3 separate regions of the Homo sapiens genome follow, and regions 1 and 2 are each reported to be linked to region 3. Evidence: microRNA targets listed by miRTarBase, many of them from high-throughput screens and not tested one by one. Region 3 holds a microRNA gene; each other region holds the end of a gene's coding sequence.
The links. The annotated mature microRNA hsa-miR-6780a-5p reads UUGGGAGGGAAGACAGCUGGAGA and lies in region 3 at 2,234-2,256, opposite strand. An mRNA with a match to its seed (bases 2 to 7 or 8) in the 3' UTR can be bound and repressed. Matches are read on the target gene's strand: a 7mer-m8 pairs with bases 2 to 8, a 7mer-A1 pairs with bases 2 to 7 and ends in A, and an 8mer does both.

Region 1: the mRNA of TMEM91 is a reported target of hsa-miR-6780a-5p. The part of its 3' UTR that is shown has no 7-base or 8-base seed match.
Region 2: miRTarBase lists TANGO2 as a target of hsa-miR-6780a-5p. Seed matches in the 3' UTR shown: 8mer at 1,175-1,182 and 8mer at 1,340-1,347.

What each region holds. Positions count from the first base shown.
Region 1 is chr19:41,383,015-41,388,171 of GRCh38, forward strand. TMEM91 (transmembrane protein 91) reads left to right here. Exons shown (of 4, transcript NM_001098821.2): 4 at 701-1,069. The coding sequence ends at 859. It overlaps EXOSC5 (exosome component 5), which reads right to left. Exons shown (of 6, transcript NM_020158.4): 5 at 4,500-4,589; 6 at 3,360-3,711. The coding sequence ends at 3,619. Among named protein-coding and RNA genes, the nearest start is that of TMEM91, 9.1 kb to the left of the region's middle. RefSeq lists an enhancer at 916-1,415 and a silencer at 3,335-3,513.
Region 2 is chr22:20,064,255-20,069,478 of GRCh38, forward strand. It overlaps TANGO2 (transport and golgi organization 2 homolog), which reads left to right. Exons shown (of 9, transcript NM_152906.7): 9 at 288-2,910. The coding sequence ends at 408. Among named protein-coding and RNA genes, the nearest start is that of DGCR8, 13 kb to the right of the region's middle. RefSeq lists an enhancer at 1,854-2,354.
Region 3 is chr17:42,705,891-42,711,121 of GRCh38, forward strand. It overlaps MIR6780A (microRNA 6780a), which reads right to left and starts at 2,261; the gene lies at 2,194-2,261. It overlaps EZH1 (enhancer of zeste 1 polycomb repressive complex 2 subunit), which reads right to left. Exons shown (of 21, transcript NM_001991.5): 13 at 3,956-4,047; 14 at 2,986-3,026; 15 at 2,068-2,193; 16 at 117-295.

The sequences.
Region 1 (5,157 bases), not on the chromosome of region 3:
GAAGGTAGCCCAGAGAACCTGAACTCAAATCCTGAGTCTGCCACTCTCTGCAAGATTTTTTTTGAGTCTCACTTTGTCGCCCAGGCTGGAGTGCAGTGGTACAATCTCGGCTCACTGCAATCTCTGCCTCTTGGGTTCAAGTGATTCTCCTGCCCCAGCCTCCTGAGTAGCTGGGATTAGAGGCGCGCGCTACCATGCCTGGCTAATTTTTGAATTTTTAATAAAGACGGGGTTTCACCACGTTGGCCACGCTGGTCTCGAACTCCTGACCTCAAGTGATCCTCCCATCTTGGCCTCCCAAAGTGCTGGGATTACAGGCGTGAGCCACGGTGCCCAGCTCTCTGCAAGATTTTGGGCAAGTCACTTAACTTCCCTGTGCCTCACTTTCCTCATCTGTAAAGTGGGAATAATTGCTACCTCTGGGTCAATGTGAGAATCAAATGAGTTAGAATAGTGGCATATACCATTTTAATGTTTTTATTTATTTTTTAAAATTTATTATTATTATTATTTTTTACCATTTTAATGTTTTTATTAACCACTCAGCATCCCCAGTGCCTGACCTATAGTAGGTGCTACGTATCTGCTTTTGGAATACATGCATGAATGAATGAATGGGTATGTTGGGTGGGGGAGGGACCAGGGGAAGGGTCTGGGACTGAGGGGATGCCTGGGTCACTGCTGCCCACTGCCTCTACAGACCAACAAGGCTTGGGCCAAGGGGGACATCCAGGGGGCAGGGGCCGCCTCCCGCCGTGCCTTCCTGCTGGGGGTCCTCGCCGTCGGGCTGGGCGTGTGCACGTATGCGGCTGCCCTGGTGACCCTGGCTGCCTACCTTGCCTCCCGAGACCCGCCCTAGTTGCCCCTACAGCCCTCACTGTGAACCCTGAGGCCGGCAGCCCAGCAAATCTGTGGGCAGAGAGTGGAGAATCTTGGTGGATGAGGCTGCGGCGGCGGCAGGAGCATCTAGAAACGGGAGCGAGCTGGACTGGAACCCTTCCCCTTCCTGGCCACCGCTCTTCGGGCGGCAGCAACCTGAGATTAAACACCAGACACCCTTGCAGCCAAACCAGAGTCTGTTCGCGTGTGTGGGAGGATGGAAGGGGGTGGGGGTGCTTGAGACCAACAGGGGACTGACTGGTCAGGGTGACGGGCTGTGGTGGGCATCCCCAGGGTGCTTGCTCCCTGAGACCTGAGCTGGAAAAGGGGGAAGAGGATTTTCGGGTTTTTTTTGTTTTTTGAGAGATGGTCTCCCTGTTGCCCATGCTGGAGTGCTGTGGCACAATCATGGCTCACTGCAGCCTTGAACTCCTGGGCTCAAGCAATCATCCTGATTGAGCCCAGGAGCCTCCCAAGTAGCCGGGACTACGGGCACCTGCCACCACACCCAGCTAATTAAAAAAATTTTTTTGTAAAGACAAGGTATCACTATATTGCCCAGGCTGGTCTGAAACTCCTGGGCTCAACTGATCTTCCCGCCTCGGTCTCCCAAAGAGCTGAGATTACAGGCATGAGCGACCATGCCTGGTGGTTTCTAAACAGCAGGATGTTCTCATCCCAATATGGGTGGTTAGCAGAGAACTGGAGAGAGCTGAGTTTCAAGTCCTTACTCCTCTACCTGTTAGCTGTGTAAGCTTGGCCCAAGTGACTTCTCACTTTTTCTCCTCTGCAAAATGGGACTTTCTGCACACCTCAGGCTGTAGTGAGGATTAAATGCATCATATGTGGAAATGACTGTCTGCTGTTGCTGTCTCCCTCTGAGCTTTTTTTTCTTTTCTTTTCTTTTTTTTGAGATAGGATCTCCCTCTGTCAACCCAGACTGGAGTGCAGTGGCCCGATCTTGGTTCACTGCAGCCTCGACCTTCCAGGCTCAAGTGATCCTCCCACCTCAGCCTCCCAAGGAGCTGGGACCACAGGCGTGTGCCACAATGCCTGGCTAATTTTTTGTATTTTTTTTTTTTTTTTTGAGATGGAGTCTCGCTCTGTTGCCAGGCTGGAGTGCAATGGTGCAATCTCAACTCACTGCAGCCTCTGCCTTCCAGGTTCAAGAGATTCTCCTGCCTCAGCCTCCTGAGTAGCTGGGATTTCAGGTGCGCAGCACTGCGCCTGGCTGATTTTTGTATTTTTAGTAGAGACAGGTTTTCACCATGTTGGTCAGGTTGGTCTCGAACTCCTGACGTCAGGTGATCCACCCACCTCAGCCTCCCAAAGTGCTGGGATTACAGGCGTGAGCCACCAAGCCTGGTCTTTATTGCTTGATAATGTCTAGCCCCTCTTAGTGTGCTTAGTGAGCACTTCCTATGTGCCTCTGCTAAGTGCTTGTGACAGATGTGTTTTCCCTGTCCAGGTGCCAACACCTCCATGTTTCCTTAAGGATGCATCCCTTTCCCTATTGCAGGCCATTTGGTTTGGATGGGACTGCCTCCAACTGCAGGTAGGGTTTTGCCCCATCTCTACTAAAAATACAAAAATTAGGCTGGGCACAGTGGCTCAAGTCTGTAATTCCAGCACTTTGGGTGGCCAAGGCAGGCGAATCACCTGAGGTCAGGATTTCCAGACCAGCCTGGCCAACATGGTGAAACCGCATCTCTACTAAAAATACAACAATTAGGCCAGGTGCGGTGGCTCACGCCTGTAATCCCAGCACTTTGGGAGGCAGAGGTGGGCGGATCACCTGAGGTCAGGAGTTAAGAGACCAGCCTGACCAACATGGAGAAATCCCGTCTCTACTAAAAATACAAAAATTAGCTGGGTGTGGTGGCATGTGCCTGTAGTCCCAGCTACTCAGGAGGCTGAGGCAGGAGAATCATTGGAACCCAGGAGGCGGAGGTTGCATCACCCCATTGCACTCCAGCCTGGGCAACAGAGCGAGATTCCGTCTCAAAACAAAAGAAAACAAAACAAAACAAAACAAAACAAGACAGGGACTATAACAACAGCCCCATCTCACAGGGTTGGTGGGTGGGTATTTAGAGTTTCCTCCCCATGGCCTACAAGGCCCCACCTGCATGCTTGCCCGTTTCCCCCAGCCCCATCTGCTCTCCTGCTCTAGCTCGCTGGCTTTGGCCACCCTGTTCACCAAGCTGGTCCCCAGCCCCTGGGGGCTCCTTCCCCACATTATCCAAGAGCTCACTCCCTTTCCTCTTTCAGGGTCCCCTCTGAGGTACCCTGCTCTGTGAAGGCACTGATGCCTGATGTACTCAATTTGCCCTCCATAAAGGGACTCTCCCAAACTCCTGTTCCCTGCTTTTTACTTTTTCATAGATTTACTACCATCTGACAAATTCCAGTTTACCTCCCTGCTCCTCTGGGATCTCACTAGCAGGGCCTGCACACGATGGGTGCTCAACAGACATTTGTTAAAGTGAATTAATTTATTGATTCATCCATTCCATAAATGTGAGCTCCTTTGAATGTTATCCTTGCTGGGGGGATCTGTGCCCCCAGGCCTGGGGGCTGTCACAGGCCAAGGCCTCCCCACAGGAGCCCTGTGGTTACAGAGCTGCAGGCTCAAGGAGCCCATGGGTCAGAGAGGCAAGGCTGGGCTGCTGGTTTGCTTCAGGCTGTAGGGGGTGAGTGGGTGGAGGCAATGGGAGCGGCCCCTTGCCCCAGCTTGCCTCAGCTCTTGGAGTAACGCCTCTGCAGCGATTCCCGGTAGAAACGGAAGACGTGTTGCGAAGCGGCCTGGGCCGCAGCCAGGCACTGCTGGAGCTGCGGGGGAGAGACTGGTCGGTGCTGGGGGCCGAGCCCTTCATGCACACACGACTTGGCTGACCCAGGAGGTTCTGCTGACCCCACCTGACTCCCTTAACCTCCCATCACTCCCCTGCCCCCAAGTGAGGCAAGTGGTAAGGGATTATTTCCCATTTCATGAACTGTTTCTTAGAGATCAGGAGAAATAAAAAGAGGGAGAAGGACTTCAGGATCAGATTCTGACAGCAACAGGACTCAGACCTATCAGGCATCCTCACACCTTGGAGGAGGCCCCAGCTGTGCAGAGCTATGGAACTGGAGAGTGCACAGAATTGGAGTGGTCTTGGGATTTTACAGCCACAGTCCCCTTCAGCCCAAATAATCTAAGAGCCATGGAATCAAGAGACTCCCAGTCTTCACTGCCATGTATTCCTAGATTCATGAGGTCCAGGTTGGACATGCTTTTGCAGACAGTCATGTCCAAGAGTTTCCAGGCTCTGCCCCTTAGCCTGAGACCTGGAATTCCCATGGCTCACCACTCTGAGCTGGGAGCTGGGGGACCATCACATGCCCTCTTCTGACTTCAAACTGAGCTCATCCTCTTTTTGCCTGTGTTATAAATTGGGCTTCCCTTAAACATTTCCGCAAAGGTTTCTGGGTCCACAAAGTTTGAAAACTCCCTTTTTACAAGAAGAAATTTAAGAGGCTCTCCTGAAGCCTCTCAGAATCCAGGGCAGAGTTGGGACAAGACCGTATGTCAGTGGGAAGGAAGGTTCTGGCTTTTCCCCTCATCCCCATGCTGGTACCTCAGTGTCTGAGTAGAGCCCCTTGGTGCTGGACATCAGCAGCTTCCGTTCCACGCTGTCCAGGGCAAAGGTCAGGACTGCCCGGGCCTCCTAGGGACAAGGGGTAGAAGGCGGTGGGGGACCTAGGACCTTCCCCTCAGATAAAATCTCAGCCAGTCCTTTGGCCAGGCACAGTGGCTCATGACCATAATCTCACCACTTTGGGAGGCCAAGGCAGGGCACTGCTTGAGGCCAGAAACTCAAGACCAATCTGGGCAACAGAGGGAGACCCCATCTCAGAAAAAAAAAAAAAAAAAAGGTAGCTGGGTGTGGGGGTGCATGTCTGAGTTCCCAGCTACTCAGGAGGCAGAGGTGGGAGGACTGCTTGAGCCCAGGAGTTTGAAGCTGCAGTGAGCTGTGATCGTACTACACTCCAGCATGGGCGACAGTGAGACCCTGTCTCAACGCTCCCCTTCCCACCACACACTTGCAGCCAGTCCCACTGAGGGGACTCCGGACCCTTGGCCTCCAGGCCTCTCCCTTTCCATAGCCAGGCGCTCACCTATCAAGCATCAAGCGCAGCCATTTTTTGTCTACGCTACCCCTTCCCTACTTCCCTGGGTATAGCCCTCTGCCTTTCCTTTGTAGAACTGTACTCCATGCCCCTTATTCCAACCAC
Region 2 (5,224 bases), not on the chromosome of region 3:
GCCTTGGCTCATGCTACACGGGGAGAGCAGGGCAGGGTGGGGTGGTTCCCAGTGAAGGTGGCAGGACTCAGCAAGTGTGGGCCTGTGGAGCCAGCCAAGAGCTCACACGCCACTGATGGCCCCTCATCATCCCCAAGACTGAGGCTGCTGCTCTCTGTGACTTGGCACAGCCTCCAGGCATGGGGTTCCTAACTCTACCTGCCTGCATTCTTGCCCTATTTGTGGCTGTGACAGGCAGGGCAGGGCTGAGGGACACCAGGTGAACGAGGGCCCCTGCTCTCTTTCAGAACCAACACTATCATCCTGGTAGATGCGGACGGCCACGTGACCTTCACTGAGCGTAGCATGATGGACAAGGACCTCTCCCACTGGGAGACCAGAACCTATGAGTTCACACTGCAGAGCTAACCCCACCTCTGGGCCTGGCCAGTGGGCTCCTGGGGGGCCCTGCCTTGAGGGGCACTGTGGACAGGAAACCTTCCTTTGCCATACTGCATTGCACTGCCCGTGGCTTGGCCAGCATCCCCCGGATCAGGGCCCTGTGGTTTGCGTGTTACCCATCTGTGTCCCCATGCCCAGTTCAGGGTCTGCCTTTATGCCAGTGAGGAGCAGCAGAGTCTGATACTAGGTCTAGGACCGGCCGAGGTATACCATGAACATGTGGATACACCTGAGCCCACTCTTGCACATGTACACAGGCACTCACATGGCACACACATACACTCCTGCGTGTGCACAAGCACACACATGCAAGCCATATACATGGACACCGACACAGGCACATGTACGTGCACAGGTGTGCTACACATGTGCACACATGCACAGTTGCACAGACACACACACACAGGTGCACACACACGATGCCGAACAAGGCAGAAGGGCGACTCTCACCTCTCATGTGCTTCTGGCCAGTAGGTCTTTGTTCTGGTCCAACGACAGGAGTAGGCTTGTATTTAAAAGCGGCCCCTCCTCTCCTGTGGCCACAGAACACAGGCGTGCTTGGACTCTTGACAAGCAGACCTGCTCCTGCAGAGGAGACAGCCACATTTGGAATTGGGCACCGAGAAGACCTGAGAAAAACCCACTCTCTCTTTTTTTTTTTTTTGAGACGGAGTCTTGCTCTGTCACCCAGGCTGGAGTGCAGTGGCACGATCTCGGCTCACTGCAACCTCCGCCTCCCAAGTTCAAGCAATTCTCCTGCCCCAGCCTCCTGATTAGCTGGGATTACAGGCGTGTGCCACCATGCCCAGCTAATTTTTGTGTTTTTAGTAGAGACGGGGTTTCACCATGTTGGTCAGGCTGGTCTTGAACTCCTGACGTGGTGATCCACCTGCCTCGGCCTCCCAAAGTGCTGGGATTACAGGCGTGAGCCACCACGCCTGGCCGAAAAACCCACTCTCATAACAGAAGTGCAGACTCATTGCTAGATTCAGTGCCCTTGAGTGTGCCAGAGGTCCTCTGTGTTTGAGACAATCCTGTGTGTGCCAGGAGGCTCCGTGTGCACCAGGGGCTCTCAGAATCCCGCTTACCCAGCTGGAGACCATGCCTCTGGCAGCCCCATCTCAGCCAGCCCTGCTCTCTCCCTCTTCCCTCCAGGTGAGGCAAACTTCATAGGAATCTGTACCTGAATGTGAGCTCCTGATAATAAAACTCTGAGGCTTTGGTGAGCGCATTTCGAGGCCTTTCCCTTGTATGCAGGGTGCCAGTGGGAGCTGCTATGTCTCCTGTGCAGCCAGACACCCTGGACGAGGCCCTTCCCACCTCCCCCTTTCCTCACGGCTTCTTCAGCACCACATGTGGATGCCTGTGGGTCAGTCCATCTGTCCATGGGCAGGGGCCGCTGTGAGAGACCCCATGCGCGTGGGATGTGGTAGATGCTGATTATGGGGCCAGCCACCCATACAGGTCTATCAGGTCGCAATGGAGGCCCCACTGGAGCGGGAGGCAGGCTGGCCTGGACTTCTGTTGGATGATGGGGGCCAGGGGATGGTAGGAGGGGCAGGAGAGCAGGTCTGCATCTGTCTCAGCCCCAGGAGCTCCTGGTTTGGGGCCAGCTCTAAGGAGCTTCATCCCTGAGCCTGGCCGAGTATAAGGGGGTCCCGGATATCCAATGCTGAGACCTAGACTTTTCTAAGCCTCTGCACCCAACCCCTAACTTGGCCTTTTCAGACCCATGAGAGTGCAGGGTGGGTGTGGACCTGCGCCAGGGCTTCCCAGCCTGATTGTGACATGATGTGAGTCCACCTAGGGAGGAGCAGGGGCCTCCCCGTCTCTTCCCCTTCTTGCCCAGACCACTTTGCTGGGCTCAGAGCCTTCCATGGCTCACTTTGAACTCAGAAGAGTTTCCCAGCTGCGACCCAGGCTGCACCCCCAGGCCTGAGGAGAAACTGAGGCCCCACATCCCATACGTGTCCTCTGAGTCAGGACAACAGGCTCCCGGCTGGGGGCACTGCCCTTGCTGCCAACACATTCACCTGCCCCAGTGGCTACCATGTCCTGTGCCGGTGACCAGTGCCAGTCCCCAACCTGGATGGTGCCCTGCCCTCATGAAGAGCCCCCCGGATGTTCACCTCTGCCCAGAGACCCGGCCTGCCCAGGAAGAGCAGTCTCTGCTCTTGTGTGGGTCCCTCTGCCCCCACCCTGCCCAGGGCTCCCCAGCAGCCTGAGGCCCCTAAGGAAGAACAGCCCTCAATGGTGATTCTATTGGTGTTATGAGTTGTGTCCCCAAAGAGATATATCAGTGTCCTGACCCACAGTACCTCAGAATGTGACTGCATTTGGAGATAGGGTTCTTCCAGGGGTAACCAAGGTAGAATGAGGTCGTTAGTGTGGGCCCTAATCCAATATGACGGCTATCCTTATAAAAAGAGGAACATTTAGGCTGGATACAGTGGCTCATGCCTATAATCCCAGCACCTTGGGAGGCTGAGGCAGGAGGACTGCTTGAGCTCAGGAGTTCAAGACCAGCCTGGGGCAACATGTCGAAACGCTGTGTCTACCAAAAAAAAAAAAAAAAAATACAAAAATTAGCTGGCCATTGTGACTCACACCTGTAGTGCGAGGCTGAGGTGGGAGAATCGCTTGAACCCAGGAGGCAGAGGTTGCAGTGAGCCAAGATTGCACTACTGCACTCTGCCTGGGCAACAGAGGGAGACTCTGTCTCAAAAAAACAAAAAAGGAAGATTTGGGCTGGGCGCAGCGGCTCACATTGTAATCCCAGCCCTTTGGGAGGCCAAAGCTGGAGGACTGCTTGAGCCCAGATTAGCCTGGGCAACATAGCAAGACCCCATCTCTAAAGAAAAATGAAAATTAAAAAATTAGCAGGGCATGGTGGTACACACCTGTAGTCCCAGCTACTTGGGAGGCTGAGGTAGGAGGATCACTTGAGCTCAGGAGGTGGAGGCTGCAGTGAGCCGTGATTGCACCACTGCACTTCAGCCTGGATGATGGAGAAAAACCCTGTCTCTTAAAAAAAAAAAAAAAGGAAAAAGAAAGATTTGGACACGGACGGATACGCGCACAGGAAGAACACCGTGTAAAGACTGGAATTCTGCTCCACGAGCCAAGGCATCACCAGAAGCTGGGAGAGGGGCCTGCTTCAGAGCCTCTCTTAGAGCCTTCAGAGGGAGCAGACCTGCTGTCACTCTGATCATGGACTTCCAGCATCCAGAGCTGTGTGACAATAAATGTCTGTTATCTTAAGTGGTTCAATTTGTGATGCTTTTTTTTTTTTTTTTTTGGAGACAGGGTCTCACTCCATTGCCCAGACTGGAGTGCAGTGGCAAGATCACAGCTCACTGCAGCCTCCACCTCCTGAGGTCAGGCAATCTTCCCACCTAGTCCCCTGAGTAGATAGGACTACAGGTGCATACGACCACGTCCAGCTAATTTTTTGTATTTTTTGTAGAGACGGGGTTTTACCATGTTGCCTGAACTGGTCCCAAACTCCTGGGCTCACATGATCCTCCCACCTTGGCCTCCCATAGTGCTGGGATTACAGGTGTGAGCTACTGAGCCCAGACTGTGGTGCTTTTTTTTTTTTTTTTTTTTTTTGAGACGGAGTCTCACTCTGTCACCCAGGCTGGAGTATGGTGGCACAGTCTTGGCTCACTGCAACCTCCACCTCCCGGGTTCAAGCAATTCTCCTGCCTCAGCCTCCTGAGTAGCTGGGACTACAGGCACCTGCCACCACGTCCAGCTAATTTTTTGTATTTTTAGTAGAGACGGGGTTTCACTGTGTTAGCCAGGATGGTCTTGATCTCCTGACCTTGTGATCCGCCCGCCTCGGCCTCCCAAAGTGCTGGGATTACAGGCGTGAGCCACCGCTCCCGGCCGACTGTGGTGCTTTTTTAAGGCGGCCCTAACAGACTAACACAGTAGTGATCTTCACTTTACAGATGAAGGAACTGCGGCTTGGGGAGATACCATAACGGCCCCCCGGTTCCGAGACAGGTGGAGAGGCAGAACCATGGGCCAGGACAGAATAGGATGAGTACAAGGTGGCATCTCTGGGGGTGCCTGCCCCACAGATCCATGGTCTTCCCATGCTGGTGTCCCCACAATGTCTGGCACTGCTCCCCGCTTCACCTTACTTGCCCAGGCCTACCCCCATACCCTCAGCTCACAGCTACACACTCTGCACAGCTCCCACCCCAGGGTCTTTGTGCTCACAGTTCCCCTGCAGATACCCAAACCACACTCTTCCCCCAGTTCCTGCAGGTCTTTACTGAAGTCTCGGGCAGGCAACTCATTTAAAGTTTCAGTTTAGCCCAGCACGGTGGCACACACCTGTAATCCCAGCTACTTAGGAGGCTGAGGTGTGAGCGTCGCTTGAGCCCAGGAGTTTGAGGCTGTAGTAAGCCATGATTGCACGACTGCACTCCAGCGTGTGCGACACAGCGAGCCCCCATCTTGAAAGAAAGAAAAAAGAAATTAAAAAGGAGGCTGGGCACTTTGGCTCACACCTGTAATCCCAGCACTTTGAGAGGCCAAGGTGGGCAGATCACTTGAGTTCGAGACCAGCCTGACCAGCATGGTGAAACCCCATCTCTACTAAATATACAAAAATTAGCTGGACATGGTGGCGGATGCCTGTAATCCCAGCTATTCGGGAGGCTAAGGCAGGAGAATTGCTTGAACCTGGGATGCGGAGGTTGCAGTGAGCTGAGATCGTACCACTGCACCCCAGCCTGGGTAACAGAGCTAGATTGTATCTCAAAAAAAA
Region 3 (5,231 bases):
ATCAAGCACTTTCACATATAAAGCCTCAAAAGAACCAGTGGAAAGAGAATGCTTGGGACCGTTCCTTCCTTCCCCCTCCATTTTATGTGGTGTGGGGTCCTGAGGAAAGGCCTCACCTTCTTAAGTCCACGCTGGATGCTGCAGTTTTTACAGGAAACCACCTTGCAGTCCCAGTGCTCTGAGGCCCCACAGGTGAGACACAGGTCAGGGTCACATTCTCGCACTGCCAGATAGCAAGGACATTGCTTGGTATTGCACTGGGTCTTACAGCGACAGCCAGGGAAACGATTCTGACCTGGGAAGGGAAGACAGGTAAGTCTTAGAAGGGAAATAAGCTAATACTGGGGCTTGTGGTTGACTCAAGGGACAGCAAAGAAGTAAATTTTTTGTGTTCAAGGATGTTTGGCAAAATAAGAGGAAGCTCCCTTCCCAATAATCAAATACACAAGTTTTGTCCATAGAAAACTGAGTGCTTCCCAACATTCATGCCTTCGAGTCAAAAAAGCAGGTGTGGTCAAGCATGGTGGCTCATGCCTGTAATCCTAGCACTTTGGGAGGCCAAGGCAGGAGAATCACCTGAGCCCAGGAGTTCAAAACCAGGCTGGGCAACATAGGGAGATCCTGTCTCCACAAAAAAATTAAAAAAAAAAATAGCCATGTGTGGTGACACCTGCCTGTAGTCCCAGGCTTGATGGATGTAGGGGGATGAATGGCTTGAGCCAGGGAGGTTGAGGCTGCAGTGAGCCATAATTGTGCCACTTCTCTCCAGCCTGAGCAACAGAGCTGAGATCCTGTCTCAAAAAAATTTAAAAAATGAAAAAAAAAGCAGGTATACTAATAAGAAGTGTCCCCTAGAGATTCCCCAACAATCCTCTCCCTCCCACTGAGGTGGAGAGTACCCCAGAGAATATGAAATCAGTGTGTTTCACTGGTAAATTGTCACCATCAAAACAAGTATCATTTTGAGAACAGAATGCATCCGTTCTATGCCATCCTTCTCCACCCACTGCCCAACCCAGCGCAACCACTTCTCTGCTGCGGCTAAGATCACTATCTGCTATGGGTTAGGAGGTATTTCCTCCAGCAAAACCGCCTGGGCACCAAGTTCTGCAAGCTGTGGGGACTGCCATCAAACTGCTCAGCTTTGAGTTGGGAAGGGCATGGTGGGATAAGAAGTAAAAGATAAGTACCCGGATGTCTCTGCTGACATCCAGGCCCCTGTCTTCTACCTGATATTAAAACTCCAGCTATGAAATGAAAATAGACATACACAGAATCACAAACAAAAAATATCTGAATAAAAAATTTTTTAAAACAGTATTCAGAAAAGGGAAACTGGGGCTGTAACTTAAAAAAAAAAAAAAGAGTCCCACATTTCTTTTCTTTTTGAGACAGAGTCTTGCTCTGTTGCCCAGGCTGGAGTGCAGTGGCACAATCTTGGCTCACTGGCAGCCTCTGCCCTCTGGGTTCAAGCAGTTCTTGTGCCTCAGCCTCCCAAGTAGCTGGGACTACAAGCATGTACCACCATGTCTGGCTAATTTTTGTATTCTTAGTAGAGACGGGGTTCACCATGTTGGCCAGGCTGGTCTTGAGTCCTGACCTTAAGTGATCTGCCCGACTTGGCCTTCCAAGTGCTGGGATTATAGGCGTGAGCCACCACACCTGGCCTAATTTTTTTATTTTTAGTAGAGATGAGGTTTCGCCAAGTTGGCCACGCTGGTCTTGAACTCCTGACCTCAAGTGATCCGCCTACCCAAAGTGCTGGGATTACAGGCGTGAGTGACTGCGCCTGCTGCCCCCCACATTTCTTAATTCTCCCCTAGAAGACAAAGTTGGGAAAGTATCTGATTTCTGTGTAATTGCTGCTTTTAGAATCATGAACCTAAACGTTTTCCAGAAACGACTCTCCCAGATCTCATGCACTTATTTCATTTGTAGAATCCCTAAAACACAGCAAAGGGGATATCAGAAGGCCATAAGCAGTAAAGGGCACAGGAATGGGGCAAGCCTAGGGCACACTGGAGCCAACTGTTTTGGTAGACTATACAGAAAACGTAGCACACTTACAGTCTGGGTTGCACTGGCAGAACTTCTCACAGAAATTCTGAGTCATGATGCAGGGGCAGGTGCTGTCACAGGGGCGGTCTGGGTGGTCGCAGGGTTGGTAGTTGTACACTTGTGTGGAAGAGTTATCTAGGAAAGAAAACAGAGGAGGATGCTGCTGTGACCATACTCTCCAGCTGTCTTCCCTCCCAAGTGTCCAGCTGCCCTGATTCAGAGGAGGCTGGTCCTAACAATCTCCTTGGACACACATTTAGCACCTGAAGTGAGAAGACAGGGATGACCGTTGTTCATAAGCTGCAGTGGGGTGATCTGCTTTGTGGGGAGGGTGTGGAGATGGTCTGGGACAACAGGGAAGCTATTCTAAACATTAAATGAGGTCTGGAACCTAGCAAATGGCACACTAGAAAAGTCACATACTGGCCAGGCACAGTGGCTCACGCCTGTAATCCCAGCACTTTGCGAGGCCGAGGCAGGTGGATCATTTGAGGTCAGGAGTTCGAGACCAGCCTGGCCAACATGGTGAAACCCCGTCTCTACTAAAAATACAAAAATTAGCCAGGCATGGTGGTACATGCCTGTAATCCCAGCTACTTGGGAAGCTGAGGCAGGAGAATTGCTTGAACCCGGGAGGCGGAGGTTGCAGTGAGCCAAGATTGTGCCACTGCACTCCAGCCTGGGTGACAGAGCGAGGCTCCATCTCAAAAAAAAGAAAAATCACAGACCACAAGGCCCTTAATGTTACCTCCTAAGAGGTCTTCTCAGTTGCAGTGAGAGGCTCAGCTGTTCTCAGTTGCTGCAGAGAATTCTGCAATCTGCGGAAGTGGCACAGGGTCAACAAGTGCAGCTGGAGGTGGGGTAGGGTGATGACCACAGAGTGAGGCCTCCAGCTGAACTGCTGAAGAATGCCCTGGTAGAACTTACCTTTCTTCAGCTGAATCTTCCTGCAGTGTGCAGCCCACAATCTGAAAAAGACAGGAAGGACAGGTCTCAGTCACGGCCCTAGGGAGCTCTGCAAATGCAGGTAAATGACAACGTGACTTGCTCTGAGGGACTGTGTTTGATGACTGGGGAGTATCTTCCCAAACCCCTCAACAGGACGACTTTGGTACACAGAAGCTAGAGTCCATCCTAAATCCAGCTGGCCTGTGCTACAAGAGTTAAACTTAAACACAACCCCTCCCAAACAAGCAAATAACATAAAAGAACACAACACAGAAATAAAAGAAAGCCCAAGCCTATTGGTCTATTATAAAGCTATTGTTTCTCTCCAAATCTCTCCCTTTGTCTTTGTGGAGGTGGAGATATGGGGGAGTTTCAAGATGGGGAGGTGGGAAGGCCTTTCAGGAATCTTCTCTGAAAGAACTGAAAGGGAGGAGCCACAGGGATTTCCTTCTGTATCTAGAAGTGGTGTCAGCTCCTTCCTCTGATAGGTGATAGTCACTAGGGAACAGGGCCAGGGTGCAGAATTTTTTTAAAAACTTCCAACCTAAGTAAAGGCTATCATGTAACTCAGAAAAACAACACAAACCAAACAAATAAATAAACTCTGATCAGAGTTGAGAAATGGGTAAGGTGGTAACAAAACCAACAAGGAGAAATGGCTTCAGGGTGGAGCCATGAGGCCAGCTCATGTCCTATTGGCCAGAAGCTTAAATAGAAAAACAGACAGTTATGGTCCACAGCACTGGGGGACAAGAAGAGGGCTGATCTAAGGCACAGACCCTCAGGGAGCACTCAGGAGGCTGGCTCTCAGTCATGTGATGCCAAGCTGATGGGCTCACACAGCCTGTGCGGTTGCTAAAGAGGGAGGCAGATGGGAACTCCAAGGGGAGGTCAGAGCACAGGGAACAGCCTGGCTGTAAAACAAAACACTTTGTCCAACCCTTCTTGCCTGTGCTTTCTTTTCTTCTTCTGTGAGGGGTTCATGAGCTCATCTGTTGGCAGCTTCAGGATAAGTGATTCTTTGACTGCAAACTGAAAGACCTGGAAGAGAAATCCAACGGGCCTGTCACTCCTCGAGCAAGGGGGTCAGGTAAGTGGCCCAGCTGGGTGCTGGCCTTGGGAGGGTTCTGAGAAACTCAGGCAGCTGACCAAGCCTCTCATCAGTCAGGGAGAGACAGAGTGCCACTGGAACATTGGGTTACTGGCTCTGAAGTTCATTCCTAATTATTTATCCTGACTCAGGAAAGGAGAAATACTGAGCACAGTAATACCGCCCCTGGTCAGAAGCTGTCACCTACTACTCTTTCTACCAAGCCACGGGTAGAAGAGTGGGCTGACTGTGACCAACAGTATCTTCTTCTTTTTAGGAAGGGCAACGCTGTGCCTTGTGTAACTGAGTGTAAGGCAGGACAGGACAGGACAGGAATGGTTTCAGTGGGCTAAATATTAGCTCCCTCTGTCAGTATAAAGATACCGGAGCCTCAGCCATTTCAATAGGATGTGTTTTTTCTCTTAAAGCACTGGTTTTTAGTTTTTCCTTTTCTTTGTTGGGGCTATTGGCCCTTTGTGGGGGATCTTTGAAAACTGTAACTATTCTCAGGAAAATACAGACAAGAACATTCTTGCATACAAATCCATAGATGGTTACGTTGAGAACCTGTGATCAGGGAAATAGGTATGAGCTCCAAAATGAAAGCAAAGGGCACTTCAGCTCATGGTTCTGTTTTTGTTTGTTTTTTTTTTTTTTTTTTAAGAGAGAGGGTCTCATACTCTTGGCCAGGCTGGAGTGCAGTGGTGCCATCATAGCTCAATGTAGTATAGAACTCCTGGGCTCAAGCCATCTTCCCACCTCAGCCTCCTGAGTACTAGGACTACAGGTACGTGGCTTTTTTTTTTTTTTTTTTTTTGTAGAAATGGGGTCTCACTTTGTTGCCCACACTGGTCCTGAAATCCTGGCTTCAAGCGATCCTCCCACCATGGCTTCCCAAAGCACTGGAATTCTAGGTGTGAGCCACCTTGCCCAGTCCATGGTTCTATTAATTGTTCTCAGTACAGGAAGCATGAAGAAGAGGCCACAGAGTCTCCTCCAGAAGGTAGGAAGCCAAAGCATTGGGGTTCCTTTCCTGTTGGACATGCTGGCCCTGACAGCTGCCTCCTTGTCCCTGTTCTTCAGTCTGTCTTCTCACTGTGGTCTTTTCCTGTCTTTTCCTGGGCCAATCACTTGA